Homo sapiens: one gene and its partners. The protein of the gene in region 1 interacts with the protein of each later gene in a biochemical or structural test. Each region holds a gene or a part of one and is shown on either strand. Other genes may lie near its edges. The genes, in order: DRD2, TRPC5, NCS1 and PPP1R9B.

Evidence for each region.
Region 2: the proteins of DRD2 (region 1) and TRPC5 form a complex in vitro, tested with the Homo sapiens proteins (one study listed by BioGRID).
Region 3: the proteins of DRD2 (region 1) and NCS1 form a complex in vitro, tested with the Homo sapiens proteins (2 studies listed by BioGRID, with this or other methods).
Region 4: the proteins of DRD2 (region 1) and PPP1R9B form a complex in vitro, tested with the Homo sapiens proteins (one study listed by BioGRID).

The regions. Positions count from the first base shown.
Region 1 is NC_000011.10:113,416,383-113,423,417, forward strand, and holds part of DRD2 (D(2) dopamine receptor), read right to left. Parts: intron 1,755-7,035; coding exon 1,645-1,754; intron 618-1,644; coding exon 481-617; intron 1-480. UniProt on the Homo sapiens protein: Dopamine receptor whose activity is mediated by G proteins which inhibit adenylyl cyclase. Positively regulates postnatal regression of retinal hyaloid vessels via suppression of VEGFR2/KDR activity, downstream of OPN5.
Region 2 is NC_000023.11:111,771,773-111,778,807, reverse strand, and holds part of TRPC5 (short transient receptor potential channel 5), read left to right. Parts: exon of another isoform or gene 1-153; intron 154-1,805; coding exon 1,806-2,495; 3' UTR 2,496-7,035. UniProt on the Homo sapiens protein: Forms a receptor-activated non-selective calcium permeant cation channel. Mediates calcium-dependent phosphatidylserine externalization and apoptosis in neurons via its association with PLSCR1.
Region 3 is NC_000009.12:130,231,374-130,237,808, reverse strand, and holds the end of NCS1 (neuronal calcium sensor 1), read right to left. Parts: intron 4,820-6,435; 3' UTR 506-4,819; downstream 1-505. UniProt on the Homo sapiens protein: Neuronal calcium sensor, regulator of G protein-coupled receptor phosphorylation in a calcium dependent manner. Directly regulates GRK1 (RHOK), but not GRK2 to GRK5. Can substitute for calmodulin. Stimulates PI4KB kinase activity.
Region 4 is NC_000017.11:50,147,678-50,154,785, forward strand, and holds the start of PPP1R9B (neurabin-2), read right to left. Parts: upstream 3,001-7,108; 5' UTR 2,837-3,000; coding exon 1,466-2,836; intron 1,151-1,465; exon of another isoform or gene 1,058-1,150; intron 1-1,057. UniProt on the Homo sapiens protein: Seems to act as a scaffold protein in multiple signaling pathways. Modulates excitatory synaptic transmission and dendritic spine morphology. Binds to actin filaments (F-actin) and shows cross-linking activity. Binds along the sides of the F-actin.

The DNA of each region.
Region 1 (7,035 bases):
CTCCTATTCACTTCTAGCTTTCCTGCTCCAGGTGGCTAAGGCCTGACCTGGGTTTAGCAGGCCCTGAGGGCTGCAGCTTCATTACAAAAATACTATTGTCAGGAGTGGATGGAAGCCCAGTAGCCTCCGCCATCCCATGTTCATGTGCACATATACACACATGCAGTTTGTGAAGCACGTCTTGCCTCTTCAACTTAATAACCAAAGTTGAAAATTCCCAGACATACCCCTGAACCATTATCCCCACTCCTCATCCAACTCCGTTGTGTCCTGGGCCACTGTTTCCTCTCTGCCAACCTAGAACAACTCTTGAGTGGGGCTTGGCCCAGGACACGTAGCCTGGACTCAGTCCAGGGTAGTGATAGGCCTCCATTGGGCCTCCACCCATATCTGTGCCAGGGACTCTGCTCCCTCAGGGCCCTTCGAGGGAGCAGGGGCCCAGGGCCAGCTGAGCCTCAGGCAAACAAAAGCAGAATGTACCTGCGTTATTGAGTCCGAAGAGGAGTGGGCAGGAGATGGTGAAGGACAGGACCCAGACGATGGAGATCATGACGGTGACCCGGCGCTTGGAGCTGTAGCGCGTATTGTACAGCATGGGCATGGCCACAGCTGTGTACCTGCAAGGGCGGGGGACCCTGAATCTGGGGTGCAGGCCCAGGGACCCCTCACTCCACAATATGCACACACCAGAGACACCCTCACTCCTTGGGGCTAAACAGTTGACACACCTCTATGAAGCTTGCCTGAGATGCTAACTCAACCCTCCCTCCTGTCCCCAAACTCAGATGGCGAGGACAGTTGGCAAAGCCCAAACACTTAATCACTGGTGAGCTATTGTTTACTCTTAGCTCATATCTATTATTCTAACCGGCCCCACCTGGATTTCAGGCTTTTCGAAGAACCATGGCCTGCATCTTTGCACTTTTGAAACTGTACCCACTGCACTTGTGTTGAGCCCATAAGGTGGAAATGTTTGTTGATAAATTGTTAGCCAGGCCCCTCAGAGCAAGATTTAAGCCTTAGTTAGCAGGAAATAACAATGGCAATTGTCTACAATCCTTCATCACATTTTTTTTTTTACCCAGCCCTTCTCATTCATTAACTTATTTCATCTTCCAAGAATGGTGTGAGGGAGGTAGGGTCATATCTGTGCAAATTAGTGGAAGGCTCCAAGGATGCAGCTTAGCAAGGTGTGCATGGCCTGGGACCCTTGGCCATGTGCCAAGGACATAAAATGCATAACCAGATACTGCAGCTCCAGGCCACAGGTGTCATCAATGTAGGTTTCTAGAAAATGAAACTGAGAGCTCTGAAAACGTCCATCATCTGCCCAAGGTCACATGAGTAAGATGTGCTAGAGCTAGGGCTTCCGTCAGAATCACAATCTTTCCCCTTTTGTACCAGTCACTGTCTGAGTATGCTTGGCAGCATCACTGTCCATAGATGGCTTCTCTTTAGGGAGTGTGTGCTCTCCTAGCCAAACATACACACATGCACACCCATACACACAAACACATGGACCCCCATGCACACAGCCAGCTGCACAGCATCACAGACACGAGACACAGCCTGGCTTTGAGAAAAGCTGGGGCAGCCAGAATGGTGAGTGGCCAGAGCAACCTCTTCCACCCTGGCTGGGCTCACCTGTCGATGCTGATGGCACACAAGTTCAGGATGCTCGCCGTGCACATCATGACGTCCAGAGTGACGAAGATGTCACAGTGAATCCTGCTGAATTTCCACTCACCTACCACCTGGGGACAAAGCAACATAATGGATGGACAGCAGGAGTGGGAGATTAGCTTAGGTCCTGTAGCCTGGTACTCCTGGAGCCGATGAGGCCACAGACTCAGGAGGCAGCTGCAAGTCTTGTGGGCATCCAGCTGGGGTGTGGGGAGTGATGCCCATGGGTGTCTGAGGCCCTTGCCCCTCGCTTATCTTCTCCCAGATACATAAGACCACTTATTGCCAATTACTGTGCTAGAAGAAAGACAGCCAACTTATACGGAGGGCCTCAACTTTAAACCTTAATCTCTGCAACCTTTGTTAACCCCATGTGTTTTCTTAGATTCTGTATTTGTGTATTTGGCACCCATTCATCACAGAGACACCTATATTGACTATATTTTTCTATCTTCTCTGATCCTGATATTCTGGCACTTGGGAGCCTCACAGACCCAGAGAGAGACTTACTGTCCCAGAGCTAGTTAATTCCTGAAGACAGAAAATGACTGACTTGGAAGGATGCCTCTCAAATGCAAGCCAGCCACCCCGTTTCTCTAATTCACACACACACCAAGACAATATTTCCCCTGTCCCAAATTATCTCAGGTACCAGAGAGACAACTAGAGATCACCCCTGTAGCCCAAAGCCTGCCAGGATGTTGAGACTAGCCAACCCTAGGTTGCTTAATCTGCCCTGCCTTGCACTTCCTGTGGGAGCCCCAACAGGGCTGTAGCCTGGGCTTTCCCTCACCCCTGATTCTGACTCTTGACCCAAGCCTGCTGCTTCCCCCTGCACCCCACATGGCGGGCTGAGCATCTGGTTTCTAGGGACATTGTGTATCACGTTAAACTCTTCCCAATGGCACTGGCTTCCCTGTGTTATCACTCAGCCATACCTCTGTAAATTAGATTCCAGGTAAAATTTTAGAATGCCCGTGAGGAAACTGAGAACCAATGAGGAAACCAAGCCTCCAAAAAGTGCAGTGATTTCCCCAAGGCCTGTGGGCTCAGTTCCTAGTCCTGCTCTGGCCCAGGCTCTGGCTGAGCCAGGCAAGCCCTTCAGTGGTTGGCCCAGTACATGGCAGAGTCGGGGCCCCAAAATGATCTGTTAAGAATAATGGTGAAGATGAAGACTCGCCATGAAACAGAGAAGAAATTTCTGCTCCTTCTTATACCCAGAGAACGAAAGAAGGCAGATCTGGGCTAGTGCTCGAGGAACACCCGAGTGGGCTGGGGTAGGCGGAGGGGTTGCTGTGATGAGCTGTGTCCTTGGTAGGATGGGAAATGAAGAGTCTAGCTCCTGGCAGGAGCACGTTTCTCATACACACATGCACACAGGCACACACACACACACACACACACACATGAACGCACCGCCCTCCCCCCTCCCCACGTAACACCCATTCACACACAGGCACACACTCATGGCAGATTACGCAGGCACACACTCACGGCAGCTGTCCCTAGCGCTCTGGAAGCTTGGAGCAGCCCCAGTTCCCTGAGGATGGAGTCAGGACAGGGAGATGCACCTTTGGCTTCTACCAATAGGAGCAGAGAGGAGCGTGAAAGCCCCCTCCCGCAACCCGGAGTAGGGCAGACTTCGTGTCACCGTGTAGCTTGGCAGCAGGGCTAATTATAACCTTGCTCATTCTGATCACTGCCCTCTCTTCTGCTCCTAGGCATCCAACCAAATGCTGGCATTTAAGCTCAATGATGGGCAATGCAGCTGCTGTCATCCTGTGTGGCAGAAACAGCAGCTTGCCCCAGAACACAGCAAGCCTCTCATGCGGCACTGTCTTCCTGGGAGCTCACATGGGGGCCCCGTACCAGGGCCTCTCTCCCAGCTCCCTGTGCTGCTGCGCTGACCAGTTTGGCAGGAGCTAACAGCTGGATGCCCATTTTGCGGGTGGAGGCAGGAGGGTACGTAAAGGGCTTTCCTGGCATAAACAGAGTGTGCCTTTAGGGTACCACTGGGCAGAAAACCAGCACTACCTGATTTACATCCCACTTTGAAGCCCCTCCTGGGACCAGTACTTGGGAGCCACTGGGGATCTAGGTTGAGATATCAGGGCCTTCCTCCCTGTCTTCCTCCTCTCCTTCCCTCCTTTCTGCCATCCCTTCTTTCCTACAAACACTTATTGAGCAAATTACTGTGTTCCAGCCTCTATCCTAGGCTCCTGGACACAGTTGTGAGCAATTCAGACACAGTCCTGCCTTCATGGACATCTTAAATCTCTCCTTGCACTGGCCTATCTGGAGCCCAGAATAACAAAGAGATTTCCTCTGTGGTCCCAGGGGAAGCTGCCTTGGAGAGTAGTTAGGGCTGCTAACTTAAAGACTCAAGAAAATGCATTGGTGGCCACTGTCCATAAGACATCTACTGTGGGCATTGCACTTTATCTCATGTATCGTTCTTAAAACTTTTACAAGAAGGGCTTGCTTATCCCACTCATAGGTGAGGGAACTGAAGCCCAGAGAGGCCATGTAACGTGGCCAAGTTCACCTGGCAGGTGTGCAGCAGAGCTGGAATCTGAAACATCACATCCCATGCTCTCTACTAAGCTGCCCTGGAAGGGACCATCTAGCTTATCAAGAGAGGAGATAATTAGGTGACAAGTACTTGGTAAGCATGAAATGTGAAAAGGAAAGATGATTATTTCAAGGGTGGACAAAACTAGGGAGGGTCAGAGAAGAAAACAGAACAAGATCACTTGGTGATTTAGTAGCAGAGGAAGGAGTGGCCCCAGGTTCCCTAGTCGAACCCAAGGCTCTTTTCTTCACACCCCCAGGCATCCAGGCATCATTCCTTAATGCTCTTGCTCACATAAAGCTGAGACCTGCAGTACAGGCCCTGAGCTGGCTCAGCTAAGTCCTAATAACTGTAATAATACTAAGGACTTACCATGTGTCAGGCACTGTTCCAAACACTTGATGCTTATATCTTAGAATGCAGACAGTAAGCCTCAGAGGCAAATGACATAACCACCTCTCCTCCATACCTCCAGCCAGCTACTCCCTCTCCCTGCTGGGTGGCTTTCTTGAGAATGCAAGTGTCTCCCTCCCTCTCCTGCATAATTTTTCCGAAAGCATCATTTCTCCCTGAAAGTCTTCCCTGACACCCTCATGCTGGGCCTTATGCCCCACACCTCCTATGGGGACTGCTCCACTGTCACCGGCAGCAGACTGCACTGTAGGGGCCCTGTCAACCTCTGCATCCCCAGCAGGTCAGTGCCTTAGCCCATTGCACAAGGATTGGGGTAAGACCTCGGAGTGCTCAGTCAGTGCTGACTGAGTGAATGAATAACTCTGAGATATTTGTTCATCTTCTCAATCTCCTCATCTAGAAAATAAATGCACACAGGAAGCCGCTCCTTAAAGGGTTGTGAGGCTGACATGGAATGGCACATGTGGACATCAGGAACTCTTCCAATAGCATCTAGATGGAAAGGAATGGAGCTGGGAATTGAACCTGGTCCTCTCACTCCAAAACCAGCGTGCTTTTCATACACTTAGCAAGATAAATAACGCACACTTAGTCCTAAGCCAGACAGATGTTGGCATGGCATTGCTGGAAATGGAACAGGAGGAAAAAATCTGGATGACAAGAGCATGTATTAGAGAGGGGACAGTGCGTGGTTGTGAGGGTGCGCTGATAGGACATCAGGGCAGGGTGAGACGTCACCTGGGACGTTCTCTAGGGACAACAAATCGCTGAGATAATGTCCATTAAACAAGGCTCAGTGCCCAGCTCTAGTTTGATGAGATGCTGTGGGGAAGTCTGAGCCCTGCCCTCTGAGAATGGCTTCTGCACCCTCCTCCCCTGACACACTCAGCTTCACCTTTAAAATAAGGTGAACAAGCATGTTTAAAGGATCTGTTCGAAAGACTTACAGATTCCTGGGAACCCCCTATAGCCCATGTATGGATTTGTCCCTACCCAAGTGCCTGGGTAGGGACAGGGGGTCTGGAAGCTAACAGAAGCCATGCCCAGAGCCCTGGGTAGAACACACGTTCCTCTGGGAAGAGGGTACCTACTTGCCTGGGGCGAACATAGGGAGTACTCTCTCCTTCCTCTTTATCCCAAGGGGGCGGTGAATAGGAAAGACAGAGTCCTCCCTATGTGGAGCAGTGCTGGATGTCTATTGTCATCTTCATCTTTATCATCATCGCCATGGCTGACATTTACACAGTGCTCACTGTGAGCCATGTATCATTCTAATCACTTTTCATACATCAACTAATTCGATCCTCAACAATGCTATGATGTATGATACTATTATTATCTGCATTTTCCAGATGAGGAAACTGAGGCACAGAGAGTTTGTTTGCTCTACCATTTTTCCCTATGGTCTGAGACCTAGGACCCTCCTTTGGAAGAGGGAAGAAGGAGGGGATCAAGCGTAAGAATTAAGAAGGCATGGACAGAGTCTAGGGGCCCTCATAAACATGGATCCAGGGGGAATTGGACTCCTGGCCTGTGTCAACTGAATATTTTTATGTGGTTTTGTATTTGTGTTTCCTTTTGGTTCTTCCTTAATATCCAGTCAGGTCATTTTGGAAGTTGCAGCCTGCATTGGCTGTAGTAAAGGAAGCCAAGGGGTGATGGATCAGAGCTCCCTTGGGCCCGGGGTGGTGGTGAGAACAGTAAGCGCACGAGCCCCTTGGGGGCCCAGGGACAGGGAGGTGTGCCACTTTCCACCAGTCTCGCCTCCTCACCTGAGCGTCCTCATCTAGATTTCTCCCCTGTTTAAACCTACAAAGCTTTCTCATTTTCTTTCAACAACCCCTTCCCTCTCAGGCAGGGATGGCCTCAGAGGCACTGGTCAATTCCTCTCCTGCTCAGGGAAGGAAGGTAACGGTTCAGTGGGCAGAGCACCGGCACTTTCCTAAATGCCTGATCCCATGCCTTCCCATGCACCTAGACTCCCAGATTGCTTGAGTCCTGGACATGCCATCCTAGAAAGCTGGGCAGAGAAAGGGGCAGGATCCAGCTTGTGCCCACCGATGATCCCTAAATGCTCCCACATCTGCTCGCTGGCTCTGAAGGTGTCTTCCTGGAGAATAATATCTGCTTTGGGATTTCTCCATCAGCATTTCTCCCTGTGACCTGGGTGAAGAAAGGCAACTTCTCCAAAGCTTCTATTTCCTATTTTGTTTTTGTTTTAATTTAATTTTATTTTTTTTTTGAGACAGAGTCTTGCTCTGTCGCCCAGGCTGGAGTGCAATGGTATGATCTCAGCTCACTGCAACCTCTGCCTCCCAGATTCAAGCAATTCTCCTGCCTCAGCCTCCCAAGTATCTGGGATTACA
Region 2 (7,035 bases), on another chromosome or scaffold:
TATGTCACACCACAATCAGTGTCAGGAATGAAGGAAATCTGCTGTATGCATTCTTTTAATATTCTGAGTGTTTCTCAGTGTGGAAATTGAATGCTTTAAATGATGTGGCAAGGATGCATGGTGGTGAGGGACAAGATAACAAAGGGAAGATGCCTGCAGACTTAATTATCTTCTTTACTTAAAAGATATAAGATCAAAAAATCTGTTATTAAATCTAAGGTCTTAAGAAACTCTACCATTAAACATTAAAATTATACTAGTGGCATTAGCCTAAAACAACCGTTTTCAACCAGGGGCAATTTTGTCCCCAAGACCACATTTGGCAATGTCTGGAGATATTTTTGGTTGTCACACTGGTATCTAGACAGTAAAGACAAGGTTGCTACTAAGCATCCTACAATGAATAGTACAGTCTCCCACAACAAGAATTATCCAGTCCAACATGTCAATAGTGCCAAGATTGAGAAATCCTATCCTAGAACACATCTATATATATATTTTTTAATTTTTTTATTATACTTTAAGTTCTGGGATACATGTGCAGAACATGCAAGTTTGTTACATAGGTATACATGTGCCGTGGTGGTTTGCTGCACCCATCAACCCATCATCTACATTAGGTATTTCTCCTAATGCTATCCCTCCCCTAACCCCCACCACCTGACAGGCCCCTGTGTGTGATGTTCCCCTCCCAGTGTCCATGAACACATCTATATTTTCTAAGGCACACAGAAAGTCCATTATCCTAATTCATAGACATAATTCATCTACTGAGGGTCTGCTATGTTCCAAGCACTCTGCTAAGTGCTCTGGTACAGTGGTGAGCAAGATCTAACCAGCTCCTACTCTCAAGGAGTGACAAACAATAATAAAGGGTGATGAACAATTTTATATTCTGACAGGTTAAACACAGGACACTGTGGAAACACAGAGAGGAGGGACGCTCATCTGGGACTTGGGGAGTCAAGACAGACTTTCCAATGGAAGTGATGCTTAAGCTGAGGCTTGAAAGCAAAGCCAGCCAGATAAGGGCGAGTTGGGGAGAAGAATGTTCTAGACAGAGAGAACAGCATAGGCAAAGGCCCAGAGGCAAGGGAGAATATGTCCATACAGGTGGACAGCAGAGAGCCTAGGAAAAGAGTAGAAAGATGAAACTGGAGAAAGCAACATGTACTAGGCCTTGAAAAACCTTGTAGTCCATGGTATGGCATTTCTACTTTTTCCTAAAGTCAGTGACAAGTTAGTAACAAGTTTTGAGAAGGGGAAGTACATGAACAGATTTCAGCTTGGCTTTTAAAGGAACAATCTAGTATGTAAGCAGCCAGTTGGAGATAGAAGACATTTCATAGAGGTTTGAACAGGGCCCCCTGTCTCAAAACAGCAGTCTCATCACCTGACATTCAACTTTTCTAGTTTCACTCGTTAGAGTCTTAAAAGCTTTTTCCTCTTCAGTAGTCCTTTTATATGCAGACACCTGAGAGCCAGTGTCCTAATCTAATAACTTGTTAGTTAATACTTAGCAGGAGTTAGTCCTTATGAAAGCACCTCAACAGACTAATCCCTGCTAAAGTGTTAGCTAATCCTGAATCAACTTTACCCATTGTACAATTTTGCCAATGGCCAGCCCAGCCCTGCCCATGGAATTATTAATATGTTTTTCTTGTGTTTGAATAATGGCAGATTTTTCTGGTGTTTTGTGATTTGCTACTAGGCAAAAACCTGGAACATACCAAAGGTATCTAATGTGCCTACTTTGAAATAAAGACCAAGCTTCTTGACATAATATGTCTCCTCTCTTTTCCCAGGAATTAAAGCAAGACATCTCCAGCTTTCGGTATGAAGTGCTTGACCTCTTGGGAAATAGAAAACATCCAAGGAGCTTTTCCACTAGCAGCACTGAACTGTCTCAGAGAGACGATAATAATGATGGCAGTGGTGGGGCTCGGGCCAAATCCAAGAGTGTCTCTTTTAATTTAGGCTGCAAGAAAAAGACTTGCCATGGGCCACCTCTCATCAGAACCATGCCAAGGTCCAGTGGTGCCCAAGGAAAGTCAAAAGCTGAGTCATCAAGCAAACGCTCCTTCATGGGTCCTTCTCTCAAGAAACTGGGTCTCCTATTCTCCAAATTTAATGGTCATATGTCTGAACCCAGTTCAGAGCCAATGTACACAATTTCTGATGGAATTGTTCAGCAGCACTGTATGTGGCAGGACATCAGATATTCTCAGATGGAGAAAGGGAAAGCAGAGGCCTGTTCTCAAAGTGAAATTAACCTCAGTGAGGTAGAATTAGGTGAAGTCCAGGGCGCTGCTCAGAGCAGTGAATGCCCTCTAGCCTGTTCCAGCTCTCTTCACTGTGCATCCAGCATCTGCTCCTCAAATTCTAAACTTTTAGACTCCTCAGAGGATGTATTTGAAACTTGGGGAGAGGCTTGTGACTTGCTCATGCACAAATGGGGTGATGGACAGGAAGAACAAGTTACAACTCGCCTCTAAGTCAAGCCCTAATCATCTGTTCTGGAACTCAACAGAAATCTGTAATTTCCTTGCTCTCAGAGGTGACACAGAATATGATTCCCTCACTGCCCCTGCCCCCCAGAAAGGAGAGTGAAACTCTTATTTGCACCATCTTTTATAGCCACATTCTCCATTTTTGTTCTTGTTTTATTATTACTTTCATTATTATTTGCCTTTTTAATACCTATACACACTAAGTCCATCTTACAACCGACTGAAGGGGTGTTGCACCTAATCATCAGAGGTGCAGTTGGGTGCTTAACCTTTTTGCTTTGCTTTTCTCACCCATGCTTCCTTGAAGCCCCAGGTGCCACTTTGCTGGTCTTGTTGCCGCACAGATTCCTGACCATCCTCAGAATCTCATGCCATTTTCCCGCAGAGCTGAGGGATGTGGTCAGCAGTCCCCACCAGCTATCAGATAAGGCAAACTACCCTGCCCATCTTTGTTGCCATTCAGTGCTACGCGCTGCCCATGCTGGGTCAATGAACAGCATCAAAGGGAGGCTGAAGAGATTTCAAAGAATTGTCAGCTTGTGGTTTCTGGGTATAAGTGGCTTGTTTCGTTCTTAAATACTACAACTTCTTATTGTGGGGGCTATTGAGTTTTCTTGTTTCTTAAAGATGTGTTAGTTTCCTAATGTGTGCCAATGAAATATTTACCCCATAGTATATGTCATATCTAATAAGTTAGGCGAATTATTTTTCTGTTTGTGTGTTTCAGTTAACTTACTACATTTGAAAATTTGATAGTATCAAAATTAGTATTTAGAATTTGTGCTATTTTTTAAAAACATCTACTACACTCTAACCAATAGTCACTACATCTCATACATTGGCAAGATAAATAGTTGTCATATTTGTTGGGTCCTATTCTACTGTTGATAGTTTTAATTATCATTGCTATCAAATAATTTCTAAGATAAAAGCCTGAATTTGAAATATTTTTATCAGAAAAATGGCATATTGCTGAAGTGTCAAAATATGAGAAAAGAGCATCTTCATTTTAATTAACTGCTTTATAAAAATGGCAACTTTAGGTATAGATAACCTAATTCAGGTTGCAGTTTTAATATTCATTGGGGGCAGTGGAATTGCATGTGTAAATTATGTTAGATATATATCATAACAACCCTAGTGGATTCATGGAATTATAAACGTGATCCAAATTCTACTGTCTTCCAAGAAAGCTACATTTATACATCCAAACAAATTCTTTTCCACAGCTTAAGAGTACCTCATCAGAATACAGTGGTTCAAGTTAAAAAATAAAGTCCATAATGCATATGGTCATCATTCTAGACCTGATAACCACTGAGAACCTGCTGAGCAAGGACGGCTTTTACCAACATTAGCACAAAGGTTTCCTCAGTTTAGACTCTAACATATGACCTGAAACAACTCTAGGTCTGAGTCCTAGAGATTACATAAATAGTGTGTAGCCCAGAAAAGTAAAATAGGTGTCACGCTGTTTTTTTTAATGTCAACACCAATAGGAATCCATTTAGATTAATGTATGTAATTTCTGATAAAAGTAAGAGAAATGAGGAACTTTCGAACTGCAAATATGCCTCCAAACTAGCTTTTGATAAGTGTGGTTTCTGTTATTTGAATGGATTCCCATCTTTGTCTCTAGCCTGGAGAAGAGCAAAATGGAGGGGGAGGGGCCAGAAATAGGAGGAGGTTTTGAAGAATAAAGCCTCATATCCAGGAAAAAGTGATCAAGTGAAAAAGCTGCATCAAGACCCATTTGGCAAGAGGTTGTCCGAAAATAATTCCTTGATCATATCTGAAGTGGTTATTTACTCAAATCAATTTCTCCCCTGCTTCGCTAAGACTGTCATAAAATGGCCTTGACATTTAATCACAGGTTACTTTCCAGAAAGGTTTCTAAAGTTACAGATTCAGCTTTTCAAATTGTCAAATTCACTTTGAATAATAATAGAACCTGGGCTACATTCCTAACTCATATTAACAGCACCAAAAGAAATAGCATATAACCCCATTTTATAAAAAGAAAAACATGTTTTTCTCAGAAATGTATATCACTTCTGAAAACTTATAAGTTTTCTAGCAGTGACCTTATCAACTTGTCAGAAAACAGGCTAGCCAGACATGGAACTGTATTCCAAAAGTCTTCTGTCACTTACGTTCTAAAGAGATAATATGTGTAAATCAATCTCTACTATTGAAAGAACCAGTGTCATATGTCACGGGAGTACATTCCTTTTCAGATCTTCTCAGGGTTATCGTTGTGACTTGGGCTTAAGACTTTACTAGCTATAGTGAAGCCTCATTTAGGATGGGGGTTAAAGCTGAACAGCTATTGCCCTAACTTCCATGTTGGTGACACCAACATTTTTATTAACTCTAATTCAGTACAAAGTAGGAAAGGAAAAAGATTTTGTTCACTTCCTTACTCTCTTGATCAAGTATCATAAAAGGTATTTCAAGTGAAAATGCTTAGGTATATCCTCTGACCCCAGAGGAGTTATAAGCCAACTTGAGAGTAAATTTATAAACATAAAAAGAACTAAAAGAGAACTTTATAAAGGATCTACTCTATTCCAACCTCATATTTTACAAATAGAAAATAAAGAGGCCCAGAGAAGGACAATGACTTGCTCAAGGTCACAGAGCTGGTCAATAAACTCAAGTCTTCTAGATTATAGAAGACATTTATTAGTAAGCATATATGTTATATATAGATGTGAAGTGGCCACTACAGACACCCTTTTGTTCATTTGCCAAAAATGCTGTGAACTCCAAAACTTCAGACTTACATATTTAAATGTGAAGTTAAAAATGTACTGCAAAGTCAAACACAAATAATACAAAAATCATTTACTACTTATCTAAAATATCCATATCATGTTCCACCTACATTACAGTTGGCTTATCACTTCCGGACACCTTGGATTCATTTATTTGATCTCATAAAATCTCCCTAATAATAAAGGTAAAAATTACAAAGAAAATATTTGAATTATATTAGAAAGTGACCATTGTTGAAATATCTCCACTTCCAGCTTTATGTCCAGTGAAATACAGAGGAAAGACTAAATTTAAAATCATTTTCGGAAAATGCCAAACTTTACAGAGATATAAATGCTTCAAGTTACGCTTCTGTCTACTGACATGGAGATATTAAAAAATTCCCTGTTCTGCCTCCATCATTTTTCATTCCACTGTGACCTAACTTAGGCTATTTCAGCTAAGTCGTAAATACCTGTCTGCAATTTGATTAAATCATTTTTAAAAAACGAACGCCTCCACTTTTCAAATGACTTAATACCTTTTCCAAAAAGAACTTTATAGTTCTTATGGCAGTGCAAACCTCATCTGAAAACCTCAGTGGGAACTTTAGAGATAAATATGAGGCCAAACCTTAGCCTGAAAATACAAATGACCATTGGCATTCATGTTACATCATGGGTGAATCTCGTGTGGTGTTTTGACTAATAGTTTTAGTGCCCCAGACCTTGGTTTGTTAAATCATCAGGTAAAAAGTACTTGAAGATAGGCAGCAAATCCTTTGTTTAAAAGTACCTTAGAAAAATTGAGGCTGGGCATGGTGGCCCACTCCTGTAATCCCAGCACTTTGGGAGGCCAAAATGGGTGGTTCACTTGAGTCCAGGAGTTTGAGATCAGCCTGGCCAACATGGTGAAACCCATCTCTACTAAAAATACAAAAATTAGCTGGGCATGGTGGTACACGCCTGTAGTCCAACTACTTGAGAGGCTGAGGCATGAGAATCACTTGAACCTGGGAGGCAGAGGTTGCAGTGCACTGAGATCACACCACTGCACTCAAGCCTGGGCGGCAGAGCGAGACTGTCTCAAAAATAAATAAATAAAGGTACCTAAGAAAAATTGAGTATATTTTCTTGGTAATCAAGTTTTCAAAAGATTGCTCATATAGACATAGTCAATGCAAATTGATCCAAGTGTTCAGATCATTTAAATAACCTCTTCATACCTACTTCACAGCCCTACCTTCAATCCCTGCAGCTTTGCCTCAAAACTAAGGATATTTTAGATTGTTTCTTTGGCTTACTTTATCTAGATAATTGCTCCAAATATCCACCTTGTTGGTGTAGGACTCGGCAGTGGGATCTGAGTACCCCAAATGAATGTGAGCTTTACTTCAGCAGAGAGAAACATTGTTACCATTATATTTCCAATGAACCTTCCAGTAACTTTTTTTCCAACAGATGTGGGTTTTGGCTTGCTTTGCCTTTTGAGGGATGTCTGTAAAAGTGAGAACGTGTCTGTGTATATACATAGACACACATAACAAAACTTAACAGCATTTGATGGTTCTGCCCTTGGCCCTTTATCCCTTTAGGTAATTACTAGATCATTTTGAAGAGAGGGAAGCAAGAATAACTTTTCAATGAGACATTTCCTGAGCTGTGAGGAATTGCCAAAATGAACTGCCATGACAGCATCTTCTGTAGCACTTTTATATTGAGAGCTATCAAGATTTGAGGTTCCTGGTTTTGTTTAAAAAAAAAAAAAG
Region 3 (6,435 bases), on another chromosome or scaffold:
AAACACTCCTGCAGATTTTTCTGGTTTAAAAGTATACTCAAGGTTCTCACTTTGCACATTCTTTCTCTCTCTTTTTTTTTTTTTTTTTTTTGAGATGGAGTCTCGCTCTTGTCACCCAGGCTGGAGTGCCATGGTGTGGTCTCAGCTCACTCCAATCGCCGCCTCCCGGGTTCAAGTGATTCTCCTGCCTCAGGCTCCCATGTAGGTGGGATTACAGGCGCCTGCCACCACACCCAGCTAATTTTTGTATTTTAGTAGAGACGGGGTTTCACCATGTTGGCCAGGCTGGTCTCGAACTCCAGACCTCAGGTGATCCGCCCAACTCGGCCTCCCAAAGTGCTGGGATTATAGGCATGAGCCACTGCACCCGGCCTACACATTCTTTCTCTTCAGGAAACTGGGAAGACAACACCCAAAGCCAGAGAAAGGGTGTCACAAAGGGAAGAAACCTAAAACGAAACGGAGAAGAATGTAAACAGACAAAGCAACAGGCCCACACAGGGAGGCGAGGACAAGTCCAGGAAGCGTGTTTAATTGGCGTGACATGGACGACATACAGCAGGAGCTTGGGGAGGCTGGGGCATGCTACACGGCCCCTGTCCACCCCTGGGCCTCGCCCTGACCCTGGCCCCAGAGACACACACCGGCAGGTTCAGACAGGACGGCACCCCAAAAAGAGACTCAAAGGGGGCTGGGGAGGCAAGCAGGAAAGGAAATAACCACAACCAGAAGACATTGCCTTTTGTTTGTTTGTTTTTGCAAGCATTATACCAATTTCTCCCCCAAGTGGCAGGCTCCGGGTGGGAGGCAGCAGCAGTCCAAACCGCTACTCTTGGGCACCGTCCTCCACTTCTGTGAGGGGCTTTGATGATGACACTCACATTTGGGTCTCACCAGGCCCCTGCGAGGCAGGCCCAGCAGAGACTCTTGCTCCCATCCAAGGGATGGGGAAATTGAGACCCAATGAGCAGAACTGACTTGCGCAAAGTCCTGAAGGAAGCCAGCCACCGAGTCAGGCTGGGAGTGAGGTGGGCCTCCCTGGGGCCGGGAGCCACTGCAGGAACAGGGACAACAGGGAATGTGCAGACTGGGGAGGGCGACTCGGGGCTACCCCATCCTGGAGAAGGGGCAGAGCCTGAGCCTGGATGCTAAGATGCCAAGACAGAAGATGGGACCAGCTGTTTATTCAACAAAAGCCTTTTATTCATTCAAAAATTAACCATTGGGTTTATTCCGCAGATATTAAAAAAAAAAAAAAAAGAGGGGGGCAAGGCTTCCCATCACAGTGCCCTTAAGTTAATTCACTTGCTATCCAGGGATGGCCTAGCAGAGGGGTGTCTGGGAAACGCTGCCAGAAATGTGGTGGCCCAGGGCCTCTGAGGACTCACAGCCCCCTCCTCGCCTCCCCGCTCCAGCCTCCCTCCGGACCACCCGTCCGGTGGGGTTGCAGCCCCCAGGTGCGTTGGCGGCTTACCACCACCAGGGGGCGCGCCGCGCTTCCTTAGCTCCCTTAAAATTAAATGCTGAAACCGCGCTGGGAACAGGGTGACTTTCCGCCTGGCGGGTGGGCAATGGAGGCTTTTTCCAGAGACAGCCTGCCTCTCCAGGAAGGGATCCCAGGCATCCCGACCTCCCCACCAACCCCCTCCGAAAAAACACAAAGTTCCTGAAACCCCAGGTGCACTTGTCTAGGAAACGGGCTGTCAAACTGAAAAGCATTTCAGGGGAAGAGATGTCAGTACAGAGGGTGACACGTACGCTTGCCTTGATGTTATTTTAAACGTGGCCTGCTTAGATCATGGAAAATCGGAACATTCTCCTAAGTCACCATCAACACAAAGTGAGGAGCAGACGCTACGAGGAAGAGGACAGGCCGTGGCCGACTGGCCGCCTGGGGCTGGTGCCTGCCCTGGCCCCAGTGCGAGGCTCTGCAGAGGGACTATGGGCGTGCCCTCTGCATCAGAGCATCTGAAGCGAGCCGCATTGGGTGGCAAACGCCGCTGTGGAGAGGCGCACGGGCTGCTCAGGAGGCACCTGGCTCAGGATTCTGCGGCATCACTGCAGCCAGAGGCCTGGGGAGAGGAGGGGGCAGAGATCGGTCCCTGCCAGGCAAACTCTAGTGAAAATGGCCAGTGTCCAGCACCCCGCCAGGGCCGGGAAGGGCGGCCCTTCCGGCAGCTCTGGGCTGGCTCGGGCTGTGGGCCCACCGGCATGCTGGGCTGCGGTCCGCAAGCATACCATCTGCTAAGGCCAGAAGCCACACCTGTGGCTTCAAACCAAAAGGCCAAAGGGCAGGACGATGGAGGAAGGCCGGACACACCGAAGGGGTCCACATGCTTAAGCCCAGACACCCTCAGCCACAGGTCAGGTTGTACAACAGTGTCAGTCCCATTGGACCAGAGAGGCAAATCGAGCCTCAGGCAGAGGCCAAAGGAAAGTAATTTGACCTGGGAAAGACCTCCCTCATCCTCTCAGCCCAAAGCCACCATGTTCGTTCCCTGCCCCAGACCCCAGGTCAGAGCCCAGCTGAGAAACTTCAGCCGTTGGTGCTGAGTCCCAGGTCGCCCGGGCCAGCAGCTGAGCAGGGAGCCGACTGGCAGGGGCCTCAAAGAATCCACCCTTCAAAGTGGCCTGTGAAGGTGGAACCACTGACCCCATCCCTGCAGGATGTTGGTGGGGGAGGGGGGGTTACCGTGGGGCCAGCGTGCAGTCCTAGGGGGCTGCCAATGAACGCCTCAGGGGGGACGCTGGGGTTGGCTGAATGCTCCAGCCAAGGGGAACAGCCACGCAGCCCCACACGGCAACGTCACTACGGCAGAGGCCTTCCTCGGGCTGGAGGCCTGCTTGCTGAGGGTGGGAACCGAGGACCAAAGTGTCCCCTCTAAAACATGGGCTGATGGGCTGTTGACTCTGCAAAGCAGCAGCAAGAATTCTAGACCCAGGCCTGGCCCTGACAGTCTGGGAAGCGGCTTCTCACCTCAAGCCTTCCCTGTGCAAGGACTCCTTCTGGGTCCCAAAGAGCGCTCAAGGGTCTGGGGGGAACCAGGAAATGCTGCGGGAAGGGACAAGGTGTGCCACATGACACATTCATCTGCTGGAACTGACCCCACACACCAGCAGCCACGCAATAGGGGCTGTGCTGTGACTCAGACAGTCCCTCGGGCTGCTGGGGTCAAGCAAACTTAACCACAGCATCACCAGCCACAGGAAACTGAACCCCAGGCCTAGAGTGACATGATGTCGGCATGGAAAAGGGCCTTCAAGACCAACCAGCCCGGGCCTCCTCGCTCTGCAGATGGGGCAACTGAGACCCAGAGAGGGCAGGAGGCTGCCCACAATCAAAGAGCAAGGGCCGGACCTTGGGCTCCTACCTCTGGTCCAGGGTGGCCTCGCATTCCTGGTGATGGTCCTGGGGCCGCACCTGCCTCAGTGGCAGGCACCGCTGGAAGCCTCCGTGAAGACATGTGGGCCGCAGCCCCAGGTGTAGGGACTATATTGATGGGATTGCCTGGAACTCTTCTCTCCTTCCCTCCCTCCCAGCCTTTGAGCCAAGAGAAGGCCAGGGAAGGACACCATGCAGTTTACTGGAAAAAGCAGATAGGAAGGAGGGAAGGCAGAGCGGGAGAGAGTCATGAACTATCTTGAAATCCCCTCCCCAGCCCAAGGAGGCGGGGGTCCCCTTGATTTCTGCTAACTTACTTCAAAGACCACCTCTCCTGACTCTGCCTGGGTACCCAATGCCCCTTCTTCCAGCTCCCAGCCTTAGGCGCCCTGTTTTCCATGCTGCGGCAAACACCAAAGCAAGAGTTGAGAAACCTAAAGATGTCCCCTGTTCATCCTCGGAAAAAATGTTACGGACCCAGGGGAGAACAAGGATGCGGGGACAGAGGCAGCAGGGAAAAGGGGTTTGGCAGGAGGCATTCGGGCTGGAGGGAACAGTGCATTAGCCATTTAGGAATTTCCACCTCTCCCCTCTCCAAAAATCAAGCACAGTATCTGAAAAAAAAAAAATTTTTTTTGGCTTCTTGGCCGCTGCAGGCCACCATCCTCCCAAGTCGGCGTGGGCAGGTGGGTCAGGGCGTGCACATGTAAACGGTGGGCCCGCAGCCCTGGGAGCTGAGGACACACCAGGCAGCAGCAACAGTTAACAACCAATAAATTAAAGATATCAATTATATATGTATATAAAAAAAAACCTCACTTTCCCCACAAAAAGCACAATACTGTTATCACAAAAAAAATCATCATCCTCATAATTAATCATCCTAGCCACGCAGGTGGTTTTGCTGCCAAAAGATGGGACGACAAATAACGTTGACCAGGCAGAACCCCTAGACACCCTCGGCCCACCCACAGCCTCTCCGGCTGCCGAAGGACGAGGGACGAGGGCAAGGCAGAGTTCTCTGAGGTCCCCAGGCCTTCACCCCATCTGTCAGTCTGTGTCTTCTAGGACAGAAGGTAGTTGTTTTTTTTTCTTTTAAAACGTCTGTTCAAAATAAAAAACAAAAGCACACGCGCAAGAGAGCGGGAGGAACGGAGGCTGCCTGCGAGGCAGCCAAGTCCTTGGTTTATGCAGAGGGCTGTAGCCTTTTCCATTTCGTGTTGTCGTTTTCCGGACAAGCAGAGGTTGCTGGCAATTGGAGCCGGTGGCTTCAGGCGGGGGATGGGTGCAGGACAGGGGAGAGGAGAGCCGGGGCCTCCCGGGTCAAGGGCAGCCGGCTGTGTGTGGATGCGGAAGAAGGCTGGGTGGACGCACGGGGTTGGTGTCAGGGCTGAGGTGGCCTCATGGCACAGAAGGAGGTGAGTGGTTCCCAGGCATCTGGAAGACACAAGGAGGCAAGATGGGTTAAGATCCAGCCACAGCGGATAGGGGTTAAGGTCTGGCCACGGAGGATAGGCACAGAGAGCTGGCAGGAAGGTCGATAGATGGCAAGCTGGCATTCTATGTCAGAAGTCCTAAAAATGTGCATAACCTCTGAGGCACCCTTTGGGTTTTTTGGTTTTTTTTTGTTTGCTTTTTTTTGAGTTGGAGTCTTGCTCTGTCACCTGGGCTGCAGTGCAGTGGCATAATCTCGGCTCACTGCAACCTCCACCTCTTGGGTTCAAGCGATTCTCCTGCCTCAGCCTCCCAAGTAGCTGGGATTACAGGCGCCCGCCACCATGCCTGGCTAATTTCTTTTTGCATTTTTTAGTAGAGACAGGGTTTCACCATCTTGGCCAGGCTGGTCTCGAACTCCTGACCTCATGATAGACCCGCCTCGGCCTCCCAAAGTGCTGGGATTACAGGCGTGAGCCACCGTGCCCAGCCTATATTTATCCTTAATAAATAAATGTTTACCACTGCACCATCTGTAATAGCAGAAAACAGAAAACAAAAATGGAAGCAGAGAAAACAATCTAAGTGTCCAGTATCAGAGGAGTGGTGGGATACATTAGGACACACCCACAGGATAAAACAGTTTACAAACCATTAAAAACAACACATAGAACAGTCGATAAACACATGAAAAGATGCCCAACATCCCTAGTCATTAGGGAAACACACATCAAAGCCACAGGGAGGGCCAGGAGTGGTGGGTCAAACCTGTAAATCTAGCACTTTGGGAGGCCAAGGCAGGAGGATCGCTTGAGGCCAGGAGTTCAAGACCAGCTTGGCCAACACAGTGAAACCCGGTCTCTACCAAAAATACAAAAATTAGCCGGACGTGGCTGCGCACACCTATAATTCCAGCTGCTTGGGAGGCTCAGACAGGAGAATGACTTGAACCTGGGAGGCAGAGGTTGCAGTGAGCCGAGATTGCATCACTGCACTCCAGCCTGGGAGACAGAGTGGGACCCTGTCTCAAAAAACAAAAACCACAACAACAACAAAAAACCACAGTGAGGCAACCACTTCACACCCACTAGGATGGCTACCTTTTTTTTTTTTTTCATGGAAAATAACAAGCGTTGGCAAGGATGTGGGAAACTGGAACCTCTGTCCTTTGCTGGTGGGAATGCAAAATGCTGTCACTAGTTTGGAGATCAGTTTGGTGGTTCCTCAAAAAGTTAAACATAGAGTTAACCATATGACCCAGCAACTCCACTCCTAGGTATATACCCAAAGAACCAAAAATCCATACTCAGGCCAGGTGAGGTGGCTCATGTCTGTAATCCCAACCCTTTAGGAAGCCAAGGTACGCGGATCACCTGAGTTCAAGAGTTCGAGACTAGCCTGGCCAACATGGTGAAACCCCATCTCTACTAAAAATACAAAAATTAGCTGGGCGTGGTGGTGTGTGCCTGTAATCCCAGCTACTCAGGAGACTGAGGCAGGAGAATCGCTTGAATCCAGGAGGCAGAGGTTGCAGTGAGCCAAGATCACGTCATTGCACTCCAGCCTGGGCAAAAAGAGTGAGACTCCACCTCAAAAAAATAAATACATAAAAAATAAAC
Region 4 (7,108 bases), on another chromosome or scaffold:
CTGCTTCAGAGTCCCAAGAAACACTACAGTCCCCCATTCCCTTCAGAACCCCACTGCCTTCAGGAGGGGAAAGGGGTTGGGAGAGGACCCCGCAGGTCCCAGCCCAGGGGAGAGGCTGGCCTGAGAGCCACTCACTTTTAACCTTTCAGGCCTCTTGCTGGGGTGGGAGGTGGGAGAGGGGCAGAGGCTGACATTCTGGGCGAGTGAGAGGAAAGTTGGGAAGCTTCAGAGTCCAGGAGTAGTTATGGAAACGACAAGCAAACAGATGGTGCTTTGGCTAGGGAAGGGTAAAGGCAGGGCAGGGTCCAGGCCAAGGAGAGTCCAGGGACCTGGACACTTCCATGGGGCGGACCTGGGGCCGGGTGCAGCTGAGCCTGGGGCGGTGAGGAAGAACCCTGCAGGCTGAATGTGCTAGCCAAGAGTGGAGGGTGGTGGGAAGTGGGGGGAGGGGTGGCCTGGGGTTTTTGATTCCCCCCAGGGGATGTTCCCTCCCCATCAGGGCTGTTCTGAGGATCTCAAAGCTCTGGCACAACCCACAAACCAACCACCAATAGTGGCCGTGGGGATGAGACCCCCAAAAGGGGCAGCTCCCATCCCTCTTTCAGGGCTCCCAGAGAATGTGGCAAGAACACTTGGGGCCTGCCAAGGCCATGGGAGTCTGTCCTATTGAGCAGCCAAGAGTAAAGGCATGCCCACTACTGCCAGGCACCCAGGGGGATCCCAGCCCCACCTCCTCCTCCTCCATGCCTGCAGAAGGCCTCTCCCCATCAAGGACCACACAAAGTGCCCCTCCCTGTGCAAGGAGGACCGGGCAGCTGGCCTGCAGGGACCCCCAGGGAACACGGCGCCAGCCAGTCACATGGCCACAGACCAGCTCACCCTCACGATCTGCTTCCCTCTTTCACTTCTGCAAAGTTGGGGTGGGGGTACAAACAGAATAGAGGAAGGGCTGCCTGCGGTCCCCTGCAGCTTCGTTTTGAGAAGTTCCTGGCTTTCCCCTTTCTCACCTCATCCAGCTCCCATACAGGGGGAAAGCACCCCGGCCCCCTCTCTACCCAGTGAAGGGCAAATGTCTCTCCTGAAGACACACACACCCCTTCACACTACCCAACCCCAGCCTCTGGCAGCCTCTGGAGGAAGGAATGTCCGGGTGAGGAAGGGAAAGCAGGTGTCCCAGGACCCGCGTGGGGCAGGGCGGGTTCCGCGGAGCGGCGGGGCGGGGCAGCAGGCGGAGGAACCTGAGGGCAGGTCGGGGCAGGCCACCCCCCTCGCACACCTGAAAATCCCTCTCTGACAAACAGCTGGAACTCCCCCACGCCCCCCTGAGGGTGGGAACTTCTGGGAAGGGGGCTGGGTGGCAGGGGCTGACTCAGCCTGCCAAACCCGGCTGGCTGGCTGGCGAGCGGGGGCGGCCGCGTGCACGTGGCAGGGGCGGCGCGGGGGCAGGGCGGGGGGGCTCACTTACTTGGATGGGCGCCGTGCTGAAATGGATCTTCCGGCTCGGGGCTGGGTCCTCCTCCTCCGACAGCCCCGGGATCTCCACGCACCCCGACTCGGGCTCGTAGGGGGGCTCCCCATCCTCCTCGTCGTCTTCGTCGTCCTCCTCCAGGGCACTGCCCGCAGAGTCCTCCCCGAGCCCACTGTAGGCGCTCACGTCCACCAAGTCCGCCTCCGAGAAGTCCTCCTTCTTGGATTCATCTACCTCCTCAGGGGCCACGTCCGGGGCCCGGCCATTGCCCACCCCCCTCTCTGGCGGCGCTACCGCCGCCGCCTCCTTCTCCGGGGCCGCTTGGGCCTTTGGCTCCTCGGGCGCGGGGCTGGCTGCAGTTGCCACGGTGCTGCCATTCTCCAGGGCCGCGTGGACCGTAACCTCGGCCTGGATCACCTCCCCGGGCGCCGACTCGGCCTCCGACTCCCCGCTCTCCTCCACCTCCACCGGCTTAATCTTGCGCACCTCCCGGGGCTTGGGGGGCGGCCGGGCAGGGGCCACTCGGTGCTGCGGGGGCTGCTGCCCTGCGGGGCATCGCTCTTTCTCGGCCGGGGCATCCCCCGACGGGGCGGGCGGCGGCGGCGGCGGGGGCTGGAACACCCGGGACCGCTTGCTGACCAGCTTCGAGTTGACCTGGGGAACCCCTGCGGCCCTGGGGAGCCCGGGCCCGCGGTGGAGGCCGGTCCTCGAGTCGGCCTTCTCGAAGACGGCGCTGAGCTGGCTGACCGTGGGGGACACGGCGTCAGCGTCCAGCTTGTCCAGCGCCTCGGTGCTGCCGTTGAAGCGCACCACGACGTCCAGCTTCCGGTCCTGCAGGCCGGCGCGCTCCTGCCTCAGCAGCCGCCGCGCCGCGGCCTCCTTGTCGCCGCCTGCGGCCGCTGGGGCGCTCCGTTCGAACAGCTTCCGCGTCTCCTGCAGCCGGGACGGCGGGTGCGGCGGCGGCGCAGGCTGCGCGGAGGGCGCGGGCTTGGAGTCGAAGCGGCTCACGCGCTCCGACACGCTGGTGCCCAGCTTCAGCAGGGCGCTGTGGTCCACGTTCTCGTTCAGGCTGCTGGCCCGCGGCAGCGACAGGCGCACGCCGCGCTCGGACGCCCGTGGGGCCTCGGCCAGGCCCGCGCCGCCGCCCGCCTCGCCCGAGGGCCCCGCCGTCGTGCCCATCTGCAGGAACATACTTTTGATGCGGTGGACGTTGGAGCCATATTTCTTGTGGTGGGCCCCCTTGGGTGCCTCGTCGGGCCCGGGCGCGTCGGGCGGCTTCAGCGCCTGGATGCCCGCCTCGTAGGCGCTGCGGTGCGGGGAGGCGCTCCGGAGGGGACCCCCGGGCCCCCGTGGCTCCGTCTTCATCATGGTGGGGGGAGCCGGGTTCGCATGCCCCTGCTCCCCGCTCCCCCGCTTCAACAGGCGGCTGGCCAAGTCGGGACCACCGCCCCCTCCCCCCGATAAAAGAAACCCCGAAGGCCTTTTTTAGGGTCCCCCCAAAACCAAGCTGCCAAAAACAGTTAATCCCGCTTTAAAAAAAAAAATGAAAAAAAAAAAATCTCCAAGCGCCCTGTGTGTGGGTCGCCTCCCCCAATCAAGCTGCCGAAGACAGCCAGCCCCGCTTCAAAAGCCCGAGCGGCCTGGTACGGTCGCCCCCACCCAAATTAGCAAAGCGGCGTCTGGGGCCGGTGGGAGCGCGCGCCCTGCCCGCGAAGCAGCCGCGGTGTCGCCGGCTCACATCGTCCGAGACGGTGTCAGCGGGGCTGGCAGCCCGGGCGTCCCCCAGTCCGGCCGGAGGCCTCGGCTCTCGGGGGGCCCGGCACCCCAACGCCCATGGCTGCTCCGCCGGCCCGGGCCGCTCCGCCGCCGCGCCTCCCTCCCTCCCTCCCTCCCCCCCGTGCCCCGAGCCTCGGTCTTTCTCTGGCTTTGCCCGAGCGGCGGCTGCCGGAGACCGAGCGGCTGCCCTTCTCGCAGCCGCCGCTGGGGGACTGGCACCTCTGGGTCCTAAAGGGATCGGATTTCCGGGGCCGGAGCCTGTGAGCCCTCCCCTTCCCCTCCACCCGAACGGATCCCCTCCCCTCCCCAGCCCTCGCGGAGAGCCTTCCGCTGCCCCCGGACGTTGGCCAGCACTCTTCAACCTGCTTCCATCACAACTTCTGACTGCGGTCACAACCCACAGAACCGCACCTCCATGAAATATTGGGGGGAGGCAGTACATCCACGATGGTCTCAGTGTGAGGGGAGGGGGTTTGTAGGGAGGGGCAGAGGTTCATTCTTCAGTGTCCTCGGAGCTAGCTCTTCGGTGTGCTTCAAGCCTTTAGCATCAGAATCGCTGGGCACTTGGTAAAAATGCAGATTTCTGGGATCTCTCTCGAACCTTGTGAAGGAGAATCTCCGAGGCTGAACCCAGGAATCTGCATTTTAACACTTCACTACAGGCAATCTTTGGCCCCCTTGGAGGTGTGAAACCTTGGTCCAGCGCTGGTGACCTTTCGATGGTGGGGGAGGGGTGGTGAAGAAAGGAGGTGAACCCCGTCATCCAAGTAGCAGGGGATCACCAAAACTGCCGAAGTCTGGAAAGGATGTCCTGTCGCCTGTCTGCTGTGCACCCGTCTTCAGGCCCCTACCCTGGCACTCCTGCCTCTCAAACCGGAAGGAAGGGTTTGGGAGCAGGAATTCGAGAGGCCTGGGGCCAAAGTTTCGCCAGTGAGAGCTCTAACTTGGGTCTCTGATTTAAAGGATCCTGGCCACTGTGTTCCGGTTGGGGTGGGGGGGTGGGGAGGGTGACAGTGACTTACACATCCCCTGTCCTGGCAACCCAGAAAGCTGTTTGATGCCCTCTGCACCCCCCGCATACACAGCTAGGGTGCTGGCGCTGCCTGGGCCCTGGGTGTGAGAGTCCGCCCTCTGGACAGGTCCAGGTGAGCTGGTTCATTCCACACATCCCAGAAACTGGTGAACACAATGGGCCCTAGGACCCAGAGAACAACTCAGGCACAAAGCCTCCCCCCACTCCCAGCTGCTTCCTGCATCTCAGGCCTTTCTGCGGCCTCTGCCTCCTCCCCCGCCCTCTTCCCCTCCATCCTCTTCCTCCTTTTCCTAATCTCCCACTCTCTCCCCCCTGGCCTGGAAGGGCTGGCAAAGGGAGCCCTCCTACCACTCCACTGCAGGGGTGTGTGTGGGTTTTGTGGGATATTAACGCGTTACCATGTGCAAAAGAGCTTAGAGTACAGCGTGGGGGATGGGGTGTGGGGAAGCCGCCTGGGAACCCTGGATATTGGGATCGGGAGGGGCCAGGAACCGCAGGACTGATCCTGAGGCTGGTGCTAAGGAAGAGGGAAGATCTAGGTTGTGAGCTAGAGCCGGAAGTGAACCCAGACCTCACACTTTCCAAATGCCACCTGCATCTTTGCCCAGTTGCCCAGGAAACTTACCCCTCCCCAGTTTTGCACTTTGGGATGGTGCAGGGTGAAGAAGTCTGTCTCCTAACCCTTCTTAGAAGGCCTCTGTCAGGAGCAAGCTTTGGGACTTAGATTTCCAAACTCAAGATTGGGTCTTGAAAACCCCTCCCCACAGGCCCCCCAACCCCAATATAGAAGTCCGGAGAAGACAGAAACCTCACCCAGTTGGGGTTTGGAAGTTTGTACAATGTACTCAGAAGCTCTTGTGTGGATTGGAGGAGGGCGCAGGCCCCTGTGTTCTGCCCAGAATCTCCCACACCCTTGGTGGTAGATCATCTTAACTGGTCCCAGCCCAAGGGGTCTGTGCCCACGCGTCTGGCCAGGTGGGGAAGCCCCCAGTTTCTGAGGGTGGGAGAAGGAGCTGAGAACCAGCTACCAGGCCCAGAGACCCTCGGACTCCCAGCATTTCCGGTAGCAGCTTAGAGCAAACTGGAATTACAGGGGTGCTCTTGGGTCTCCCTTGTCCAAAGGATTATGAATCTCCGGACAAACCCCTTTAACAGACCCTTCTAGGGGGTTTGGGCTTCAAGAGGGTGGAGCTAGCCAGAGCTTGGGGGACTGAGGCTAATCAGTGGGATTATTATTTCATGGGCTCCTGGTTAGCAGAGCAACACCCTGGCCAGAATTCCCAAAGACGCTTTTATGGAGCGGTAAGTGCTTCACCATCACTTGTTCTCTGGTGTCAGGCACCAAGCCGGCTGGCCTGTGAGATGGGTGAAGAATGGGGTCTCATTCCCTCCATCCCTTCTCTGCCTGTCTGGAGCAGTAATCGCACCTGATAGGAACAAGGAGGGTTTGGGAGGGTTACCATCCAAACTGAAGGCTTTAAATAGAATTTTCATTCATTGGGCTGTCATCTTCACCTACATCCTCCAGTGAGGAAGCACTCCAGGATAATTTAACCACCCTTTCTCTTTCCTTTGTCTTCATGGAAGAGACTTTGATGGCCAAGTTGCCCAGTGGTCTTTGGATGGAAGTTCCTTCCTTACCTTTGCCTTGGCATAGAGTGGTTGACCTAGGAGCCAGGCTGCTAGGGTTCAAATCTTGGCTTCACTGCTTACTGGCTGTGTGACCTTGGACAAGTCACTTATCCTCCTCTGTGCCCTGGGAGGATGAAAGAAGGCCCAGAAAGGACGAGAGTGGCTCGGACACAGAAGATAGGGTGTGGGGGAGGAGACGCCTTTCCCAGCCTGTGCTAAAAAGGCCAGAGGCTGCGATAGGCAGAGATAATTCACCCCCAACTCTCCTCCTGGTAACCGCCCCCCTGCCACAGCTTTCCCACACCCCCCCAAATCTGCTTAGGGCCCTTGGGAAGATGCTCTGTTAGGACTCTTCCCCAAGGCTTGCTAGTTTTAAACACCAGGTGTAACTGCAAAGATAGTGATGAAGGCAGGGAGAGGCCTGACGAGCGATAAGTCCCGAGCCCTCAGCGCCCTGGGCGCAGGCCCGGGCTGGGTGCCAAGGCTGGCTTCTCTTTCCAGCCCTGGGGCCTTGAGACTCAGCTTCTAAAAGCGGTTTTTCCTTGGCCACGGTCATCTAAGCAGAGGCTGGCCCAGACCCTGCACTTGGATCCTTTTGTGGTGAGCCAGTGGTCCCCACCCAGTTGCTCTCCTTCAAGAGTTGACCTCTGCCAGGGATTTGGGCTGGTTATAGGATGCTGGAAAGGTATGCTGGAAAGGTGTGTGTACACCTCAAATCCAGGATGTCAGTGTTGGAGGGGCCTTTAGTGGCCCTTGGCTGACCTCTTCACAGGGAGAATGACGAAAGCTGAGAAGTGACATACCTAGTTTTAAAGGAAACAGACCAGGCTAGGGTTCATGAGGCCTGAATTGAGTCCTAGCTGCACTCATTTGCTGGATGACCGTGGGCTAGTCGTGTCCCCTCCCAAAGCCTGTTTCCTCAAAAAGCTTAGCTTGAGTGTCTGAGTGTTTCCTGAGCATAGATAACCCTAGGTGTCCCTCACTTTTGTGCATGCAGCACAGGCCTTGAAGCCAGGCCATCTCTGTTAGAATCTCCAACCTCCCACTCCCCAGCTAAGGGGCTTCAACAAATTCCTTCATCTATAAGATGAAGATAATATACCAACTTCATAGAGTTTTTGTGAGGAATAAATGGGTCCTCAATGCATAAGGCACTAAAAGGGGGCTCAGAGTGTTGGCTGTTACTGATTGCAGGGTAT